Regions from separate parts of the Homo sapiens genome. Here region 1 is linked to region 2. Evidence: fine-mapped expression QTL. A gene starts in region 2. The other region holds a variant in brackets. All regions are shown on one strand. Distances are between the middles of the regions.

Region 1 (10,283 bases), 730 kb before region 2:
ACTAGGAACACCTAGAAATGGTTCCAGTTCCTTTCATTGTAGGTCTCATCTGATATGTAATTGGAGGCAGTTAGAGATCACATGATTTTAGAAATTTGTGCAGTATTGTTTGGGGAGTTTGCAAAAATGCTCTTAAAAAAGATCTTAGTTCTTCACCCTCACTGCCCTGTAGCTTACATAAAGTTTGAATCCAGCATTCCTGAACCAACAGTTATGTCTTTTTTTTTCATTAAGATGTCAGAGTTGAAGTTCTACAAGTGTGAAACCCACCATCTGGGATATGTAGATGAGTGAGCTGCAGAGCAGAATGGCTGATGCAGATCTGGTAAAGTATGGTTTGACTGATGTGGTAGAATATCCTGGTATCATCATCATTATAGGAATAAAGGTAATCAATGAAGTTTTTCCTATATCAAATATCTGTAATTTATAACTGTCTTATCTATATAAACCATACTATTGGATCTCAGACCACTCGAGATGGAATTGATTGGTTAATATCAGCCTAGTTCAGTGCCATATACTGAAGCCTGATTCCTTCGGCCAGTTTATTGAATTGTTGCCCAGTTGGAGTTTATTTGACTGGACTATATTGTTTCGTCAACCACTCAAGGGCTATACTTGAGTTTGCTTTAGTGCAGGCATAGGAATTTGGGTTTCCTTGGCCCTTGTTAGCAAATAGATCTCCAAGAGTAACAACGATAATAATGCCCAGAATAATAATGCCAACATCCCAAGACAACAATTGCCATCACAAAGATAACTCAAATGAGGACAATGACTTTCAGCAAGACCTGCAACCAGGACAGCAGCAGTTTGCACCTGACACGTTGAATGAGATGGAAGACAAGTGCAAGAAGATGGAGAGGTGGTGGCTGAGAGTGGAAGTAATACTCCAGCTAATAGGCAATTATTTTTGTGAATACTAATGAGAAATAAGCAGGACCCAGTAGTCTTCAGTATGGAGTAAAACCAACATCAGTTACTGTTCATTATTCAGAGTGATGATGAAAAAGACAACCTAGAACTTCAAGAAGTCTGGACTCTTAAGAAGGGTGCTTGTCAATTACTCTGAGCTTAAATTACAAATCAGAGAGTCAGTATAGTCCATAGCATTGTCAGACGTTGCCAAAACAAAGTCACACCATGCCATGAAGCCGAAGTAGATGGCAGATAACCCCATCAGTGTCAGTGATCCTGTGATAAAGGGTGACCATGTGCATGTCTTTGTATTAAAATCCAAAAATCTTGTGGAAATAATTATGACAAACTATGAAGTCACAGATCTAGTGCTGAAAAACTGTTTCAAGATGAGATTCATTCATATTATGAGGCACAAGTTACTGAAACATCTAAAAATAGAAAATGCACAAATTGTAAATTAATTTGACTATGTACAATACAAAAAACTAAATATGGATTACACATTAGACTAGATACTAAGGATGCCTCCTGAAAGAAATCATATCATATACCTATGCCCAATGTAGCAGGTAAACGCACTACCTTTGGAGCAGAAGTTATTCAGTGGTCTCTACCCCTGTCTATCATATCTGTATTATCCATGAATTCAGTAACCCTCCCAATATCTGGAACAAAGAGTGGATTTGCAGCTGAATAGACACAATAGAAAACATCAATCAAGCATTTGTTAAGTATGAACACTTCCATGAAGCCACTTAAAATGAAGATCACTTCCCTTTCACTGCTCCTGAGTACCCCTGGGAATGAAAAATGTATATTTAGAAAGTGCTGTGGTTGGAGCTTCCTGGCTGAGGTCACTATAGCTGCAGAGTCCAACAGCTTTGCCTATATGAATTTGAAAATAGTGAAGCGAACACCGTCCATGCTCCTTGAAGGAAACTATCTGTAGATTTTTGTATTAAAATAATAGAAGAAGAAATTCCTAAGACCCAGCCCATGAAAATGGTCATGAGCAAGTGGTGGCAATTTGCATCCAATATTGTGTTAATGCAGAGCCAATTGAAATGACTACATTTGATTGGTTCCTTCTGCTTTCCAGCAATTCTGGCAGAAAGCAGATGCCAGCCAGGGTTATTCAGCAGCCAGAGTACAGTAAATCCTCACTTACTGTCTTGATAAGTTCTTGGAAACTGTAACTTTAATCAAAATGAGGTGCAATGAAGCAAATTTTAACATAGACTAATTGATGTAAACAAGAGTTAAGTTCCTACAGCATATTTCTGGTCACAAAAACATCACCAACTTCTAAATGAAGAGCAAAACACTTCTAATATTAAACATTAAAGTAAGCGTGTGCTATACAGACATTTAAGACAGATTAATAAAAACAAGCAAGGTAATTATTGTACCCACTTACTCCAGTTTAGAGTTGCAGGTGGCTGGAGTCTCTCTCTATAGCTCAGGGTACAAAGTGGGAATTTACCCTGGACAAGATGCCATCTTATCACAGGGTGCACTCACACACACCCATATTCACTCAGACAGGGACCACTGAGACACACTAATTATTGTAACGTGTATAGCTTTGAGATGTAGGAGGAAACTAGAGTACTCAGAGAAAATCCTTCAGACATGGGAAGAATGTGCACACCACACAGACAGTGGCCTCAATGGTAATCGATTTATTTAGTTTTATCATCAATGTTATAAGGAATCAACACTCAACAAAACAGTGTTATTTGAGGATCTGCTGTGTTCCACAGGGACTCGAGTCATGCAGCTTGGAGGTCCTGCCTCAGTTTGTTATACAGAAGATGCATAAGGAGCATTGAAATTGTATGCAAAGGTTTACACATAGAGGAAATAAAATGACATTTCCTAAAGGAATAACCTTATACCATATGTTTATATAATTTAATTTAAAAATTGATTTTAATGAAGGCAGATAATTTGAAAGATTGCTCATATTTTCTGACAGTTGATAAAATGCCATTTTTTGACTGAGTCTGCATTTACTCTGTTCTTAATAAGCATTCCGTTAAATCTGTATATTTTTCTTATAGAGTGAAGCTCAGTAAATCTGATGAAGAGTGAAAGATAAATAAATCATTAAATTTGACAATCCCTATAGACATACAGAGGATTGGATATATTCTTCTTAGCAACTGTTTAGGCTTTTTGATGTTTTCAAAGATGATGTAACTGGAAGAAACAATGCTTGAGATATAGCAGAATATTTCATCATTTTCACCTTACAGCACAGAAGCAATTTGTCAATGACTCTATACTACGTACCCTGAAGCGTGACCTCCAATAACAATCAGTGTTTATTGCCAGAAAGCAGATTTGAAATATGGTTGAAAGCAGAAAAGCAGAGATGTTCAGGGTTGAATCTCTTGTGTCCTCTGAATGCAGAAACTTCGTTTTGAATATTCTTTAGCTGTAAGACCTACTTTCCATAGTCTTTCTGCTCCTATGATTCCAATTGTGCAACCTGCATTTTATAAGCATGCTTTAAAAATATGTGTTAAACATTTGGTTAGATATTCAATATGACTTTTATTTAATTATTAGAAGTATCTACCCATCTTTATGGACTGAGTTGCATCTCCCCAAAATTTGTATACTAAAGTCATAACTCCCATTATCTCTGAATGTGACCACATCTGGAGATAAGATCTTTAAATAAGTAAATTAAAATGAGGTTACTAGGAATATGACTAATGACCTAATATGAAAAATATCCTTATAAGAAGAGGAAATGTGGACACAGCATGTGTAGAGGTAAGACTATGAGAAGACACTAGGACAAGATGGCCATCTATAAGTCAAGGAGAAAGGCCACAGAAGAGAGCAACACTGCCCAAACCTTATGGACTTCTAGCATCCAGAATGAAAATAGAAATTTCTATTGTTTAAGCCATTCAGTTAATTATACTTCGGTATGGCAGCCCTAGCAAACAAATACATCATCTTTATTCTATTTTATCCAGTCCCAGAGATGGGTTTTTTCCTCCAGTCACGACCGTGATCTCATTTTCTCCTGTCTCCACCTAGAACATTGCTAATCAGTTATACCTTCATTCATCTGTCTTCACTTTCTCTCTACTTACATGTTCCTCTCAATTTGCTTAACTTTTCTGCCACCATCTTTTGACTCTATCTTTACTTTCTTTATTATCTCCACTTTTCAGAATAGTAATCTGTACTGAGTAAAACCACTCACATCACCCATCTACCAGTCAACCTGGTGGAGTCAGGATTATACAATAGCCCTCTATTTATAATAATTTATTCTTGTTAAGGTCTCCAATGATCTAATGGATAAATACAGTGGTTACTTTTTAGTCATTAATTTATTTTATCTTCTTGAAGTTTAGCTTGATCTCCTTAAAACTCTCCAATGGTTACCATATTTTTTTTTCACTGTTTAATCAAGTAATCTATTCTCTTCCGGAAGCCCATCACCTTTGAAGTGTTGGTATCATTTGTGTTTCTCTCTCTGGCCATCTTCTCTACCTTCTTAATACTGTATTCTTAGGCAGTCTCAGCCATTCTAATGACTTTATTGATGGCCTGATCACCAATATGTTAATGATCTAGAACCAGAAATACCATTTGACCCAGCAATCCCATTACTGAGTATACACCCAAAGGATTATAAATCATTCTACTATAAAGACACATGCACATGTATGTTTATTGCAGCACTATTCACAATAGCAAAGACTTGGAGCCAACCCAAATGCCCATCAATGATAGACTGGATAAAGAAAATGTGACACATACACACCATAGAATACTATGCAGCCATAAAAAAGGATGAGTTCATGTCCTTTGCAGGGACATGGATGGAGCTGGAAACCATCATTCTCAGCAGACTAACACAGGAACAGAAAACCAAACACCACATGTTCTCACTCATGAGTGAGAGTTGAACAACGAGTACGCATGGACACAGGGAAGGGAACATCACACTCCAGGGCCTGTAGCGGGGTGGGGGGCCAGGGGAGGGATAGCATTAGGAGAAA[T/C]ACCTAATGTAGATGATGGGTTGTTGGGTGCAGCAAGCCACCATGGCACATGTATACACATAAACCTGCACATTCTGCACATGTATCCCAATACTTAAAGTATAATAATAATAAAAAAAGAAATTTCAAGAGATCTGAATTTTTTTTTTTGCTGACTTGAGGAATTAGACATTCTGAACATTGTGGATAATAAATGCTTATCTTCTCAATTTCAGAACATGTTAGAAAAAGTAGAGAAGATTAAAAAACATTTTAAATAATTACACGGAGCAAACATGAGTTAATGTTTCTAATTTCATTTTATTGTTACTGCTATTACAGTAAGAAAGACCACAGTGTAGCAGTGCAACATAATTCTACTAAAAGGTCAAAGTCTTCCCTTTTAAAGTTTGTAATACCTGATATACACTAAATGTCTAGTACACTAAAAGATTTCAGGTATGTGTTTGCTCAAAATATATTTAGTAACAGCTTAATATAAATTAAATACTTTTCAGATTGATCCTATTTGTAGTATATTAATTGTATTTCTATAGCAGTTGGAGGAATTGTTCCTCTTTCTGAGGAAATTCTACAGTTAATAAACCATGAAACTGTGAGTTGTTTAAGTACTAATAAGCTCACTAAACAGGGTTTTATGAACAGCTGTTATCTATGTTGTGCCAGATGATACCAAGTAACTTTCTGAGGAATACATTTTTTTATGTAATGAGGCTTAATATATTAAATTACAATTCAGAATGTATAATTATTGTTTTTCCTTTCCCCTGGACAGTACCCTACATCACTACATAGCCCCCTGAGGCGGTTGTGGGGGGGGGCGGGGGTGGTATGAGGAAAACGTTTACACAGAAGGAAACATTTGAAGACAATTTTTTAATAAACAGAATAACATGAAGCATGGGCATTAGAATTAGGTGGAACAAGGTCCAATAATTATATCTAGAACATATTCACTCTTTCAACTAATGAAAGCCATTCTCATGAGGTTTCAGATGGAAATGAGGAACATTGAAAACTTAAGGAAAGGTCATTCTTGTTATGAATTGTCAAAGAACTTGGCTGAACTGTGTTTATGTTGTAATGTTTTATGAAAAGAATAACTTGTGAGAGACAGAATACTTGCCTGAAGAAACTTCTTTTTTTTTTTTTTTTTGGAGACAGTCTCTCTCTGTCAGCCGGGCTGGAGTGCAGTGGCACGATCTTGGCTCACTGCAACCTGCGCCTCCCAGGCTGAAGCAATACTCCTCCCTTAGCCTCCCAAGTAGCTGGGATTACAGGTGTGTGCCACCACACCCAGCTAGTAGAGACGGGGTTTCACCATGTTGGCCAGGCTGGTCTGGAACTCCTGACTTCAGGTAATCTGCCCACCTTGGCCTCCCAAAGTGCTGGGATTACAGGTGTGAGCCACCGCGCCTGGTCTGGTTGAAGAAATTTCTAAGCAAATTATTGAAGGTGCAGTTTGGCTTCTATTGAATGCTAACAGTAAACTATGAGAGAGAGAAAAGCACTTAAAGATGGATTTCTTAATCAAAAGGGAAAGGAGGAAAATATCACCTTTATCAATGAGAAAGGCTATATTGGAGAACGTTCCTTCACATCTGTGATAGAAGTGGATTCAACACCACATGTCAGTCTAAGGACAACTTTCCCCTCAGTCTCAGGCAGCATTAAACAATGGATGCCTCTTACGTGGAAGCTGGATGCTATGAAAGTTATGTTGGCTGGACGTGGTGGCTTAGGACTTTAATTCTAGTACTTTGAGAGGCCGAGGTGGGTGGATTGCCTGAGCTCAGGAGTTTGACACCAGCCTGGGCAACATGGTGAAACCCTGTTTCTACTAAAATACTAAAAATTAGCCAGGAGCGGTGGCACTCACCTGTCGTCCCAGCTACTGGGGAGGCTGGGGCAGGAGAATCGCTTGAACCCAGGAGGTGGAGGTTGCAGTGAGCCATGAGCCAAGATGGTGCCACTGCATTCTAGCCTGGGCAACAGAACAAGACCCCGTCTCAAAAAAAGAAAAAAAAAGTTATGTCATGGAGATGCTGACAACACCACTATGTTCAGGTAGGCAGGGTCCCCAAAGAAGAAGAGTATGAGCTACGCATCCACATTTCCTCTCCCAAACTTACTAATAAAATAAGCTACTTCTCAACTTCTAAAGCAAGGAAGCTACTCCTGTCTCTGAAGCATAGAGAGGCCAAGAATATTACTCCAGGTGGTGTACCTTCAGGTAGAAGTATCTCAGGGGAAAGGCAGCTCCCCTTCCTCCCAAAAGGTTCATACTTTGGTATATTCTGTTATTACAGCTACTAGGCAGCATTCTGGGTTTTTTCTGCCTATTTAAAATGCTATAGTAGTGAGCTCTTTCTATAACTTCCATAACTTCATTTGGAAAACCCTTTTCATCCCTTTTTGTTCATTGAAACTTGATCAATGTTTAATGTTCTGTCATCTAAATTGCATGAGACTCTCTCTCCTTTCTCCTGCCCCCAAGAATATCTGTTTCACCAAAACAAATGCCTATAGCTTAGTCAAGGGCATGGAGCAAGAAGTGGGTGAGCAGATTTTGGCATCAGGCAAACAGGACTGCAAATCCTGGCCCTGCCACTCATTAGCTATGAGAAATGAGGTAAAGAAATAAAAATTTTAAGTTCTGTTTTCCTCATCTGTAAAATAGAGTTGTATTAGTTTTCTTTGATCCTATAACAAATAGTCACAAATTTAGGGGCTTAAGACAATACAATTTATTGTCTTAGCAGTTCCAGATGTCAGAAATCTAAAATGAATCTCACATACAGAAATCAAGGAATGGACAGGGCTGTTTTTCTTCCAGAGGCTCTAGGGGATGATCTGTTTCCTTGCTTTTTCCAGCTTTTGGAGACCATCTGTCTTCCTTTACTACTGGCCCCTTCCTCCTTCAAAGTTCATTATTCCAACCTCCACTTTTATTATCATCTCCTTTTTTAAACTTTGACCTTCCCTCTTATAAGGACCCTTATGATTACCTTAGACCCATCTGGATAATTCAGGAAAATCTCCCCATTTTTTGATTCTTAACTTAATCACACTAACAATGTTCCTTTTTGCCATGGGGGGGAACACCATATTTACAGATTTTGGTGATGAGACTGTGGACTTCTTTAGGGGTTAGCCTAAAATGAGGATTATAATAGTATCATTTATATGCTTGTTACAAAGATTAAATGAGATAGTGCCTAAAAGAAGTGTATAATATGGTAATCTTTCAATTAATATTATTATTTTAACTTTCTTAATTTATTTTTAATTGATAAGTAAAATTGTATAAATTTATTGTGCACAACATATTGTTTTGAAATATGTATACATTGTGGAATGGCTAAATTGAGCTAATTAACTTACATTACTTTGCATACTTATTTTTTGGTAGTAAGAAGAATTAAAATCTACTCTCTTAGCAAAAACTTTGAAGACTACAGTATGTTGTTATTAACGGTAGTCACCACGTTTTACAATAGATCTCTTGAACTTCTTCCTCCTATCTAACTAAAATTTTGACCAATATCTCCCACCACCCTGACTCCAGTCCCTGGTAACTGACATTCTACTCTATACTTCCCTGAGTTCAACATTATCAGATTCCTTATATAAGTGAGATCATACAGTATGTGTCTTTCTGTGTCTGGTTTATTTCAGTCATTGCAATCTCCTCCAAGTTCATTCATGTTTCAAAAGTGACTGGGTTTCCTTCTTTTTTAAGGTAATATTACTATTTTTAAGAGTCTTGCTGCTGCTGTTGTTTGAAACCACAAAGAATAAATAATTTGAGTCACATAATTCAACATTTCATTTTATACTGTAATATACTGCGTGATTACATTTAATTTGCTTTAGTGTTGTCCAGCGAATATTAGTCATTCCTCTTCAGAAACTCTTTTCCAGAATTTTAGGGAATATCTGGACTTCCATAGTAGGAAGTGGCCATGGAAGGAATTCTACCAAGAGAGGAATTTCTATGTGAAATTTCCAGTCTCTTTTTCTGCTAAGGTGAAGGCACATAGTTTAGGCTCTGCCAATCAGATGCATCTGTGCTGAATGTTGAATCAGAAGATAATGAGGTCCAAATGGAAGCTCTGTGTGGGAACCATTTCGGTGAAGCTGATGGCAACCCATCTAGTTTCCAGAGAAACAGTGCAAGAGGTTCAGGCTGGAGAATCCACAGCGCATCACCCTCAGGACTCTAGCCACAAGCCACAGTGTCTGGCCCTGTGGTAGCAGTAGCATCTCCCCACAAACAATACTTCAGTGTGATCTGTGGCACAGTTTCTGGTTTCACAGCCCCCAACCTTGGCATCTCAGGAAATTAGGAAGGGTATCTGATATCCTGCTTAAAACAGATAAACATTGTTTCTTCAAAAACTACAAACTCAGACATTTTAATCTTTACTATTAATGTGATTTATCTCTGAGGGAAGAGATTCTACATTTTTCTTTGTATCTTCTGTATAGCCTAAAAGGTGATTATATAGAATATTAATGGAAATTAAATGCTGGGAGCTTGGAAGTGGATAATATAAAATTGGATCTTCTCTTGGTACCAGTAAGCAAATATAACCCAAATTACAACAAGACACTTTTCTAGATGGCAATATCAGAATATGACCAAGTCAAGGTCATATTAACAAAAATCAATATGAACATACGATTGTCAAGGTTAGACTCAAAGCCAAGTGAAACTTGATTATGTCTGGGCTTGCAATACAGAAATGGGTTCAAAAGTGTAAAGTAAACGGGTTCCAGAAAGAGAAAAGATACATTACGATGTGGCATTCCCTAAAGCCAGTGCTTTTCCTCTGCATAGCAATCAAATCCTACTTTAGCTGAAGTAGGAAGGGACTATTGAGTGCTTTGGATAAAGTGGCCCCACTTGTGTTATTTTGAGAAATAATCAGTTAAGTGTCCTTTCTTATGATGTTACAAGTTAAGAGGTTCAAGTTATTGATTTAGGGTATTTCAAATTGCACAATATGAAAGCAGGAAATTTCTTTCTACTTTCGCTAGAACATATTTTTCAAAATGTCACTATAAGGTGACATCACCTAACGGCCTACTTCTTACTTTGCTGAATAACATAGAAGTGTTTAAAATACATTCAGTAGAATATGGCTTTTAAACATAGAAGTGTTTAAAATACATTCAGTGGAAGTCCTGATGTTATGCCTATTTTATGCTGCATCATTCAGATCTTTTCTGCTCCCATTTAACACTGGCTTCTGGTTTATTAACACACCTTAATTTTAAGAGAATGGACATTATAACCTGTGTACTAATTAGGAAAAAAATTAT
Region 2 (10,283 bases):
AAAGTGCTTTGTAAAAAGCAACTCTCCAAATAAGTATCAGATGATGAAACAAGCAAGAGGAGGGTTTTGTAAGGTACTGTATTTGAGATTGTCATGAAGGAGAAAAAAAGAAAAACAACCTTGGCAATTACAAAATGAAAATAAAATATTTAATTTAGAAATACAAAATAATCTACAAACTTTTACTTCAAACTTCTTTAACTTTCTTCTACTTTGTGTGGCATGCATAGTGCTCTCATAGCAATGTGTTTAGAAGGTTGTAAGAGGAAGGCTGCTCAAAAAATACATTACGCAGATTTGGAAGGGGGTGGAGGTAAAGTTAGAATTTCTGAGTCATGAAAACATCAGAGCGCTTTCTGAAAGGTGTAACTTTATTTAAAACTGTGCTGCTGTGAATTCTATCATGCCACAGACACCTCTGAATCAACAGTCTCTGTTGGCAAATTGTTATGCTGACAAATTCTCACAAAGACTGAAAATTTCCATTTTGTAAACAAATAAGTGGGTTCCTAATGATCTAGCTTACCACCTAGAACTTTGAAAAGTGGAACCCTGGCTTGAGTGACCCTGAATAATCTATTTCTCACATTAGCAAAGCAGATTCAATTATTTATCACCCAAATCATAGAGCCACTGTATGAATGTAATATTAAGTCTGATACTCTTCTTCAAGCTAGGGAAGCAAGAACAGCACATCACTGACTTCACTGGGTGGAGTCCCTAAAATAGTAAGAGTGGCATGATGTGCTAATGTGGTCTTCTTCATGACACTAGGGGCTCTATTTCACTTCTATCCATAACAGAACAAATTTATTTCATGGAAGAATGATCCACAGGTTTCCTGACCAGGATATTTGATGTACACACATGGGAATGCACCTGCAGGCAAATACAGGTTGGGTGATGGGCACTCTTTCTGCTGGGTCACAGTCAGTCACAGGGACTCTAGTTTTGTGCCTTTTGATCACTACCTCCAGCACCTACGAGGAATGAACTGGACATGTGACATAGCCACGAAGCTGGGGGAAAAATCATCAGCCATCACAGTGAAGGGAAGTAGGTGAGGTACATGTGCATACCATAGACTTCGGAGCAAGCAAAGTGCACATATGTTACAAAAGGTAATGAATGCACATAACAAAAGATATACAGGAACAGTAGTGTCCAAGAAGGGATGTCAGACTTGGAGATAGGAGGTGCTGGGCCCAGACCCTCGATGTAGTGCGATTAAATGAGATGCCTATTAAAAGCCTAACAGCAGGTCAAGAATATGGGAAATCCTCATATATCAGTATTATTAGGAAGTAATTTTCTTTCCACTCATTTAATAAAATTACAATTTGGGCATCACCTACATATTAAAGGGGGTTTCATTTCATGATCACAAGGCTCCTTCTAGCTCAGTGAGTAGAATGAAGCTAGTGGTAATTTTACCTTTGGGCACCCTTGTTTTATAAAGAGCTAGCTCCCATTGTTTTATAAGGATAAGGCACCTGTCTAGCCTACTAATTGGTGGTAGCGTGAGAGGATGGAGAGGGGAATGCTTGTTTTTGATCACAGTCTTGGTCCCAGGCTCATTTTTTCATGTACTTTCACCTTCCCATTTCTAGATGCTTTAAATTCTCCAGCCCATGTCTGGGATGGTACAGATTTACCTGTGGTCTCATGAAGAAAGAGCAGGACCCAAAAGAAACACAGAATCTGGAAGTGTTTGTCATCAGATCAACAACCTAGAAGTTGGAAGAGTCTAGTCCTGTGTGATCATGAAGACAATGATCTTCTTTCCTATCTAGAAAGCAGAAATGATATCCAGCCTTCCACACCTGTGAACACAGGCCTGAGCACCCACTGTCCAGGTTAACAAAGATGTCCTCAAGGGCCAGACCTGAGCAAAATTAGAAAATAGAGGTGGTATGTTGCAAGAAGCACTGGAACAGAAGCTGTGATACCTGGATCCTGGCTCTGCCATTAACTCATTATGTGACCTTGAACAAGTCATTTCACTTGTTTTGAGTCTTGGTTTTGAGTCATTTGACTTGGTTTGAGTCATTTCATTTTTTGAGCCTTGGTTTTCTTGTGTAAAGTGTTTTAAACATAAGAAATGTTATTACATTTTACACATAAGAAAACCAAGCCTCAAAAAAGTTAAATGACTTGTTCAAGGTCACATAACTCATTAATGGTAGAGCCAGGATCCAGGTATCACGGCTCCTGTCATGGTTCAAAAACTCCCAGTATTTATGGACAAGAAGAAAACGTTTAGAAAATATTTTAATCGGATATAAAAAAAACAAAGTTGTCTTGAAAATCAGGGTCAGCCTTCCACAATCATGCCCTCTCCCTCTCATTTGTCTCTCTCTCTCTAATTCTTTCTTTCTGGTTCCTCAGGTTAAGAAATAAATCTAAATAATTTATAATAAAGTGTTATCACCATAGGTGACACCTCCTTTATTGGTATTTGTGTGCTAAGAAATCAATATCTGGTGTTAGGATGTCAGATGCTTGCAAGCTGAAGAATGTGGAAGAAGATTGTTTTTGCATGTACATGCGTGTGTGTGTGTGTGTGTGTGTGTGTGTGTGTGTATGTGTGTGTGTTTTGAGGGAGGTGAGTAATTGGTATCCTTCTTAGGTAGAATACTCCAAAGACAGCAGCCTCTCTAGCTGAGGCAAAGCTGGCTGTGCAAAGAGCCTTTTACAGCGTGGCCCACAGACAATGTGAAATTCTCTCTCCTCTGCAGCCTTGGTCTGCAGTGACACTGGCAGATGCTAAACTTCGGCCTGTCTAGAACAGTTAATTAGGTTATAGAGGCTGCCAAAAATCCCAAAGTCATCCAAAGAAAATGCAACACTTTGAGATCTGAAGCAAAGGTCAGAAGACACAAACACTAATCCTATTTCTGAGAAGAGAGAAACAAACAAAGAAGTAAGAGAAAAAAGAAAGGCAGGAAGGCAGGTCCCTGACAATCTGGCAACTTCTAATCACTCTTTTATAAACAATATTGAGATCAGGCATAAAGTGATCCTAGCTCTTTTCTCCAGTAATAGATACTGTATATTCATACACGATGATATGCAATAAATACCGCATATTCATGACCTTTCCACAGCTCTCAGTCCATACCTCTTGAGACAATAGAGGATCTTTCAGGGACCCCCTTCCTGCTGAGAACATTTCCACCCGAGAATGACTCTGGAGTGAAGAAATTGAATCAATTAAATAACTGGGTATGTTCAAGCCTTCTTTACGGGTTGCATCAAATTATCACAAAGTAAGAACTGCTGCTGTCTGCCCCCTGGTTCTCAGGAGTGGAGAGGCAGCCTTACAAACCTAGAGACCCAATTCTTCCAAAGAGGTTACCCCAGAACGTGTGTGTTGGGGCTGGGGTGGGGTAAAAAAATGAACAGCAGTGCATAGGACTTCACTGCCACCAGCAGGCCCCAGAGGAAGTGCAGGCCCAGAGGAGGCCGGGCTGCTTAGGTTAGGACCATCCAGGCAAGAAGAGAACACTTGCGTCTGAACTGCCTCACCCTGTGCCCGCCCACCCCTTCCCCAATCTCAGAGATTTGGAAAAACTGTTCTTCTTCCCTAAAAGACAGGTGTTCCTGCCCAGAAGCCCAGAATAAGTGATTTATTGACTAAACTGCAATTAAGGCTACAAACACTCCCTTCTCCCTGCGCCGTTGGCCCCCAACACAATTACACTTTATTTTGCGAGGTCTTCGTTCCTGTCCTGGCTTATGCAGTATTTCCATGGGTGCAGTGGAGTGGAAGGGAGACGGCGATTTTACATCTGGGTCCCTCTGCGTCTCATGTCACCTAGGACGTGGACTGGACCCCTGCGCCGTCCACCTTGAGCCCGGAACCCGAGGACGGCCCCGCGTCCTCTGTGGCCGCCCTGGATCAACTTCAGGTGGAGCTGACCTACGCGTTGCACTGACTTTGAAGAGCGGCTGAAGCGCACACAAGAAGCTGCTGCCCACAGCCAGCTCCGATTTCTCGCACCCCGGTCCCAATCCACGGCCACCTGCACTTTGCGTAACGTTGCGCTGGGGGGCGCTCCAGAGAACCCACACCCTCCCGCCCGGCCCAGGTGCGCACCCGGCCGCGCGGGGCTCCAGCAACCTGGCGGCCGACGGGCCCGGGAGCTGTCAGGCGAGCAGAACAGCCGGTGAGTGCGCCTTGATGGGAGCAGAAAGGCCCCTAGGAACCTTGGAGGCCTCGGAGGAACTACCCGCGGAGATCCGCTCCCAGAAAGGTTCCGGGACCACGCGGCGAGGAGCACGTGAACGGCGCAGCTTGGCTATAAAAACCCCGCTCAAGCGCGCGTGGGGAGCAACCGGAGCGGCAGGACGCTGCCACCTGCGCCAGGAGAGATAGGGATGAAGCGATCGTCCCTCCAGGACGCCAGAGACAATCTGGAGACTTGATGCTTTAAACTCTCCGGGTCTGGCTTGGGGTTGTGTGCGTCGAACTTTGAGGCTGGATTCCCTGCACTTGGGCAGAGACGCACAGACGCCCGAGCGTGTGGATTCCCGAAAATTCTCAGGGCTTGTGTGACCTTTAGGAGAGTTGGAGGGGGCGTAGTAGAAATCTCAGGCTAATTGATTTCTTGTCCTCCACCACGGAGGCAGACAGGAGCCCTCGGCTGTCCACAGAGGAGTCCAGGAGGCTCCTGCGCACCCCCGAGGCCCCCGCGCCCAAGCCCCGGCCGTCCTCTAAGCCGCAAGTTATTTCTGCGCCCGAGAGAGGCGGGCTCGGATAAAGTCGGGACGCCTTCTGGTACATAAAGTTTCATCTGCTCTCCTCGCTCGCACGGTCCCTGCCGCCTGGCGGCCCCCTCCTCCCACGGCGGGCGCGGGCGGGGAGATGGCCGCCGGCGCTTCCCGGCGCAAACGGGCGCTGCGCGCGTAGCCGCCGCCACGCTGACCTCCCGCTCCAGCTGGCTGCTGCTCGGAGCCCTAGCAGCGGGCGAAGGCGGAGGCCCAGAAGGGCAGGAGACCGCCGCGACAGGAGCCCGAGGGTCCGTATGGCTTCTCCTCGCCGGCGGGTGCTGTGCGCCACGGAGCTCGCCAAAGGCGCTTCGGGCTCGGAGCGGCTCTGAGCCGCGCCGCCTGCTGAGATCGACCGCCTGCTGAGCCGTTCCGTGGAGCTGCGGGCAGGAACCCGAGGAGCAGGAGGTGGCGGCGGCGGCAGTGGCTGTTCCTCCCAGAGGGCGATGTGGCCGGCCGGCGCGGGCACCAAGCTGCCCTGTCCCCGAGACTCTGCGCTCCGGCGGGCGGCTTTCTCTGGGAACCTCACGGCCCTGCCCTCTCACCTCGTGCCCGCCGGCCGCAGCGTCCGGGTCTTCATCAGCGCCAACCCTGAAGGTACGTCCCTCGCTCGGGTTTGCCCGTCCGTCCTTCTGTCCGTCAGCGCTGCGGGAGCTGGAGAGTGTGTGTCCGCCCCACAGCCCGGTGCGCCCTGCGCTCCCTTCCTCCAGCTAAAGCCGTGGCCGCCCTGAGCGCGTGGGAATTTAATTTGAATCACTTTTTTTCTCCCCTCGCTGGCCGGTTTTGCCTGCACACTTCTATTAGGACACCCATTCTCCACCCCGGGTTATTCCCCTGGGTCAATCCAAGAAACATCCAAGGCATTAGCCGGCCCTTCTGGAAGCTCCATTCTGCCGCCGCCGCCACCACCACCTCCTGTCCCCCGCCCTTTTTTTTTTTTTTAAAGCGGTTTCTTCTCCGAGATGACCGCAAACACAAACAGTAGCTCTCCTCCCCGAGGCGGGTTCCTGAGTGCGGGGCTACCTCCTTGGCCACTTTTTCCAGCTGAGGCGAGGTGAGTTCCTTGAGACTCTCCTCCTGCAGGTGCGATGGTGCCCTTTGCAGAGGCCAAGCAGACTTTTGTGAACCGGAGGTCGAGGGGGACACCCTCTGTGGGTCCCGGAACAGGCTTCGCGGTGGGGCGCGCAGGATGGGCTCATCTCAGTTGGGTCACAGGGCTTGGTCTTCTGTATCTAAAACTTGGCCTACTCAGTCATGTTCCTGCTTAAGGCACCTGGTAGGCACTCCATGAAAACTTGTTGATTTCTTGTTGCATTCACAACCACAGAGGTTGAACGCTGGGCGGTCAAATCCTGGCTCATCACTACCTTCCAGTCCTTAGTCCTCAACGTTAGATTTCATTCCCAGTAATTGGGGAGTTGGGGAAGGAAAGATGTATTTGACTGGGGCAGGATAAAACTGCAGGAATTGCTCTTTTCTAGGAAAAAAAATGTTTGGCTATGAGTCCATGGGAGACTGACAGAGGTGAAAGATTTGAGAATTAACGTTTTCTGCACTCTAACAAGCCTTGAGTCGAAAAGAGTCGAGGAGAAAAGTCCACATTCAAACGATCATTGGATATAATTCTCATTTGAAAACCCAAGGTTCTGGTTTCTTGAAAAAGCTTTCGGAGAAGACCAACAAAAGTAACTTTCTAGAAAATTACCGTTTCGGAAAAAATAGCACTAGCAGAAGTCTGAGGTAAAGCTTACATTATGAGAAGGAGTTGGGGAGAGAATCAAAACGATAACATGCACTAATTAGTATTAGAAAGACGATATACTCTTGGGGGACGGCACGACTGTCCTTTTATCAGTTTACAGTTCACTTTCAAAGAACTTAAGGAGGCTTTTAGGATGATATGGTACACTCAAAAAATCATTGTATCTCAAAGATGTCGTCTAGGATTTGTACCTATATCTGGATTTAAAGAAAAAAAATGGAGATATTCAGCCTATTTAAGGCAATCTGCGACTTAAGGGTTGAGGGTTACTTCTTTAAAATATTGCTAGAACATTTTTAAGTGAGAGAATTATGTTAGAAAATGTTTAAATGTTAGACATTTTTAGTTCTGAGCTTTTAAAAAAGTCATGTGAAATGTGTTTCAATCTGCTGATGTGAAGCTAGCTAAATCACTCTTTTTCTTTAAACTTGTGGCTTCTAAAATACAATAAGAATTCTGCTAATATGTGTAATTTTTTTCTTGCTGTCTAGATTTGCAATTTCTAAGATAAAAACGATACTGAATTTATACTATCAGCTTAATATTGAGTTAGTACTCAAGGTTAATGTCATTTTTTTAAGCCTGTCCATATGATTCTTCAAATTTCCTAGTTTCTTCGAATAAAAGCTTTAGCACAGATTAACCCTAGGAAAGCAAACAGGAGGGAGGAGCCAGTCATGCCCCTTGGCTACGGTTTGAGCTGGACAGCTTCCACAAGGATCTTAACAAACAAAACAGAAATGTGAAGCTTACCTGGGAAGTTTCAATAGGGGCAGGATCTCAGATTTTATCCAAATTGGAGAGCGGATGGCATATTAAATAAAAAAGACAGATGGGCATTTTTAATGATCTGAACGTGAAGCCTTAAAATCTTGGTAAATGCTCTGTCAGAGGCAGCACTTGACCGTGGGATCTTTATGGATGCAATTTAGAAAGCAAATGCCTGTGTTTTGGTATGATCCAATATTAGATTCTTGGCCAATACTGAAGAGCCTCTCTACTGTCAAATTAAGACAAAGAACATTATCTCATGCTTTCCTTTACTAGCGGAAATCCAATTTATGTTCTAAATAAAAGCTGCTTTGTGTTGAACTCACAGCAATACTCAGAACCCAGCAAGGATTTTGCTTGGAGTATTGTTTTAATAGGTAGTGCTTTACAAGGCTTGCATGGAATTTCCCCATCGGTAACGAAGATAATAGAATGAAATAGATAATAGAATGAATAGAATTTTTTTTTTTTTGAGACAGAGTCTCGCTCTTGTCACCCAGGCTGGAGTGCAGTGGCGCAATCTCGGCTCACTGCAACCTCCACCTCCCGGCTCCAAGCTATTCTCCTGCCTCAGCCTCCAGAGTAGCTGGGATTACAGGTGCCCACCACTACGCCCGGCTAACTTTTGTACTTTTAGTAGCAACGGGGTTTCGTCATGTTAGCCAGGCTGGTCTCAAACTCCTGACCTCAGGTGATCCACCTGCCTCAGCCTCCCAAAGTGCTGGGATTACAGGTGTGAGCCACCGCACCTAACCGTAGAATTTCTTTAGAATGAAAAAATTACTTTCCCATATATTAGTTCATTCAATATTTTCATTTTGTTTTCTATCCTCAAACAACCCTCTGAGGGTAGTGGACCAGGGGTGTTCCATCTATTCTACGGATGAGATTACTGAGGCTGTATCAAATTATACCACTTGCCAGAATTCATATAGCAGAGTGAAAGAGTAGAGCCTATAGGACCCTGACAACACTTGATATTCTCTTGTCCAGCCTAGGCTCTTGACAGATCTCTGTGAAATATCTCACACCACGTGGGCAAGACAATACAGATAGGGGGATAAGCACTGTCCAGCATCTTCTGGCTGTCAGACTTAAAGAGTATGAACAGCTGGCAGGGAACATGGCTATGCTGACCCACTTTGCTCCCACCAAGAGGTAGTCCGAGGCATTCAAGGAAATTTCAAAATGTGCTGGACTCTAATTGACACATTCTTGTCCAGAAGTGTATCTGCCTCTGACTAGTCCCCACCTCATGGAAGATGCTGGAGAAGGACCCATGTGGGGGAGGTGATAGCATTATCCCAGATTTTTTTAAGTGGATGGGCCTTGGACTTCATCTAGTTCCACCTCCCACCCAACATAGAAATTCCATCTGTGACATCTTCATCAATCCTTGGAAGTTTTCTAGTCATTTAGCTACTGTACTTCTGCCAGAACAGCACTTATAGCTCCTTGGAAAGATGATTTTAAAACCCACATAAAATCCTTTACTGTGATTAGCCTAAATAGTCCATGCATATGGAGATGAAAGGAACCTGCGAGATTCTCTCCCTGTTATTAGAGTGTAAAGGCCCTCCTCTTCTCTGTCTTGATTCTTTATCAGTTTATAGGAAGGTACAGTCTTAACACAGAAGGAAGACCAAAATATCACTTTTATTACTGATGAAAACAGTGCAGGTCCACAATCCATTATCTGTGATCATCTGGGCCAGATGTGATTTTGGAATCTCTTTTTTCAGATTTTGAGGAAAAATACTTACGCTCTAATATGTGGGTTCTGGGGTAACAACCCATGTCGGATATGAATAGGTGTATAAGGAAACATGAGTTCACTCTAAGTCAGTGTTATACAGAACTTTCTGTGATGCTGGAAATGTCTATCTGATATGGTAACACTAGCCACATAGGGCTATTGAGCATTTGAAATGTGGCTAGTATGACTAAGAATATGAATTTTTAATTTTATACAATTTTAATGGATTTGAATTTAAATAGACACATGTGGCTGTTGTATCAGATAGCAAAGCTCCAAGAGGAGTGATACAGATTTTAAGTAGCTTCATGTCAGTCAAGGTCAGGTTTGGCCATCAAGGACTCAGGTTACTTCAAGTTTTGCTACCAGATGGATTGGGGAAAACCTTTTATGTTCAAAGCTTTGGAGATTTTTGGAATTGCAGGTAAAAGATACAGACTTTTGTTGGAGAATATGGTTTTAACTCTGGGCAAGGGAGTTTCCCAATATTGAACCCAAGAATTAGACAGGCTTTACTCCCAGTCATTGTCAGCAGTGGGCAGAGCACAGACCACTCTCCCTGGCTCGTGGACAGAGTAGATCCCTTTAAACCTTAACACATGGAGGAGTGGAGGAGAATGGCAATTTTACGAGAAAGAAAGCAGAGGCTGGGCTATTGTGGTCAGATTTTCCTTCCAACTGCAGCCATAAGATTAAGATACTTCTCCCCTAAGGAGTAACTGACAGCATCCTACACTAGTGCATTGCCCTCTGCATGCAAAAAGATATCTGAAGTGGAGAAAAATATATTTTAACACTTAATGCATTTTTCTGTCCACTCAGATTTCTGTGCTGGTCATTATTGAGAGTCATGAACTCTTGTCCACAGTGTTGATCAGGTGTTCATACCATTACTACTTGGTTTTCTTTTGTCTGCATGGCTTTGCATCTTCCCAGACTCTTCATGCCTTTGGGGTCTCCATAGGAAGGTTTGTTCTCCGTTACAGTGGAAGTAACAGCAAGAGACATGCTTTCCCTTTATATGTGTACATGGGTTCATTTGCTACAACTAGTGCTCAATTGCTTGAACTTGCTTCCCCACACAAAAGGCAGACATATCTGCATTAAGAAATTCACGTGAAACCTATCAGTATTCTTCATCATTATTCTTCTTACTTTTCCTACTATCCTGATTATTTCTGTGGCGCCCTTTTTATTGTCTTTATGAGTAGTGGAAAAAATACA

Direction of the effects. Alleles are on the strand shown, and positions count from the first base shown. SD is a standard deviation of normalised expression in the study named.
In carriers of allele C in region 1, the expression in pituitary of the gene that starts at base 4,892 in region 2 tends to be higher than with T alone (moderate effect, 0.63 SD a copy in GTEx).

What was found. PIP is the estimated chance that this variant, and not a neighbour inherited with it, causes the effect. A credible set is the group of variants that fine-mapping cannot tell apart.
Region 1: its variant is the best candidate, but not a certain one, in a credible set for the expression of NWD2 in pituitary (GTEx, PIP 0.62).

What each region holds. Positions count from the first base shown.
Region 1 is chr4:36,506,868-36,517,150 of GRCh38, forward strand. The region is part of intron 3 of LINC02505 (long intergenic non-protein coding RNA 2505); the gene reads right to left. It also overlaps the pseudogene LOC100130532. Among named protein-coding and RNA genes, the nearest start is that of MIR1255B1, 86 kb to the left of the region's middle. RefSeq lists an enhancer at 7,077-7,246. The variant T/C (reference allele first, on the strand shown) is at 4,956.
Region 2 is chr4:37,239,852-37,250,134 of GRCh38, forward strand. It overlaps NWD2 (NACHT and WD repeat domain containing 2), which reads left to right and starts at 4,892. Exons shown (of 7, transcript NM_001144990.2): 1 at 4,892-5,367. The coding sequence starts at 5,217. It overlaps MIR4801 (microRNA 4801), which reads right to left and starts at 2,140; the gene lies at 2,059-2,140.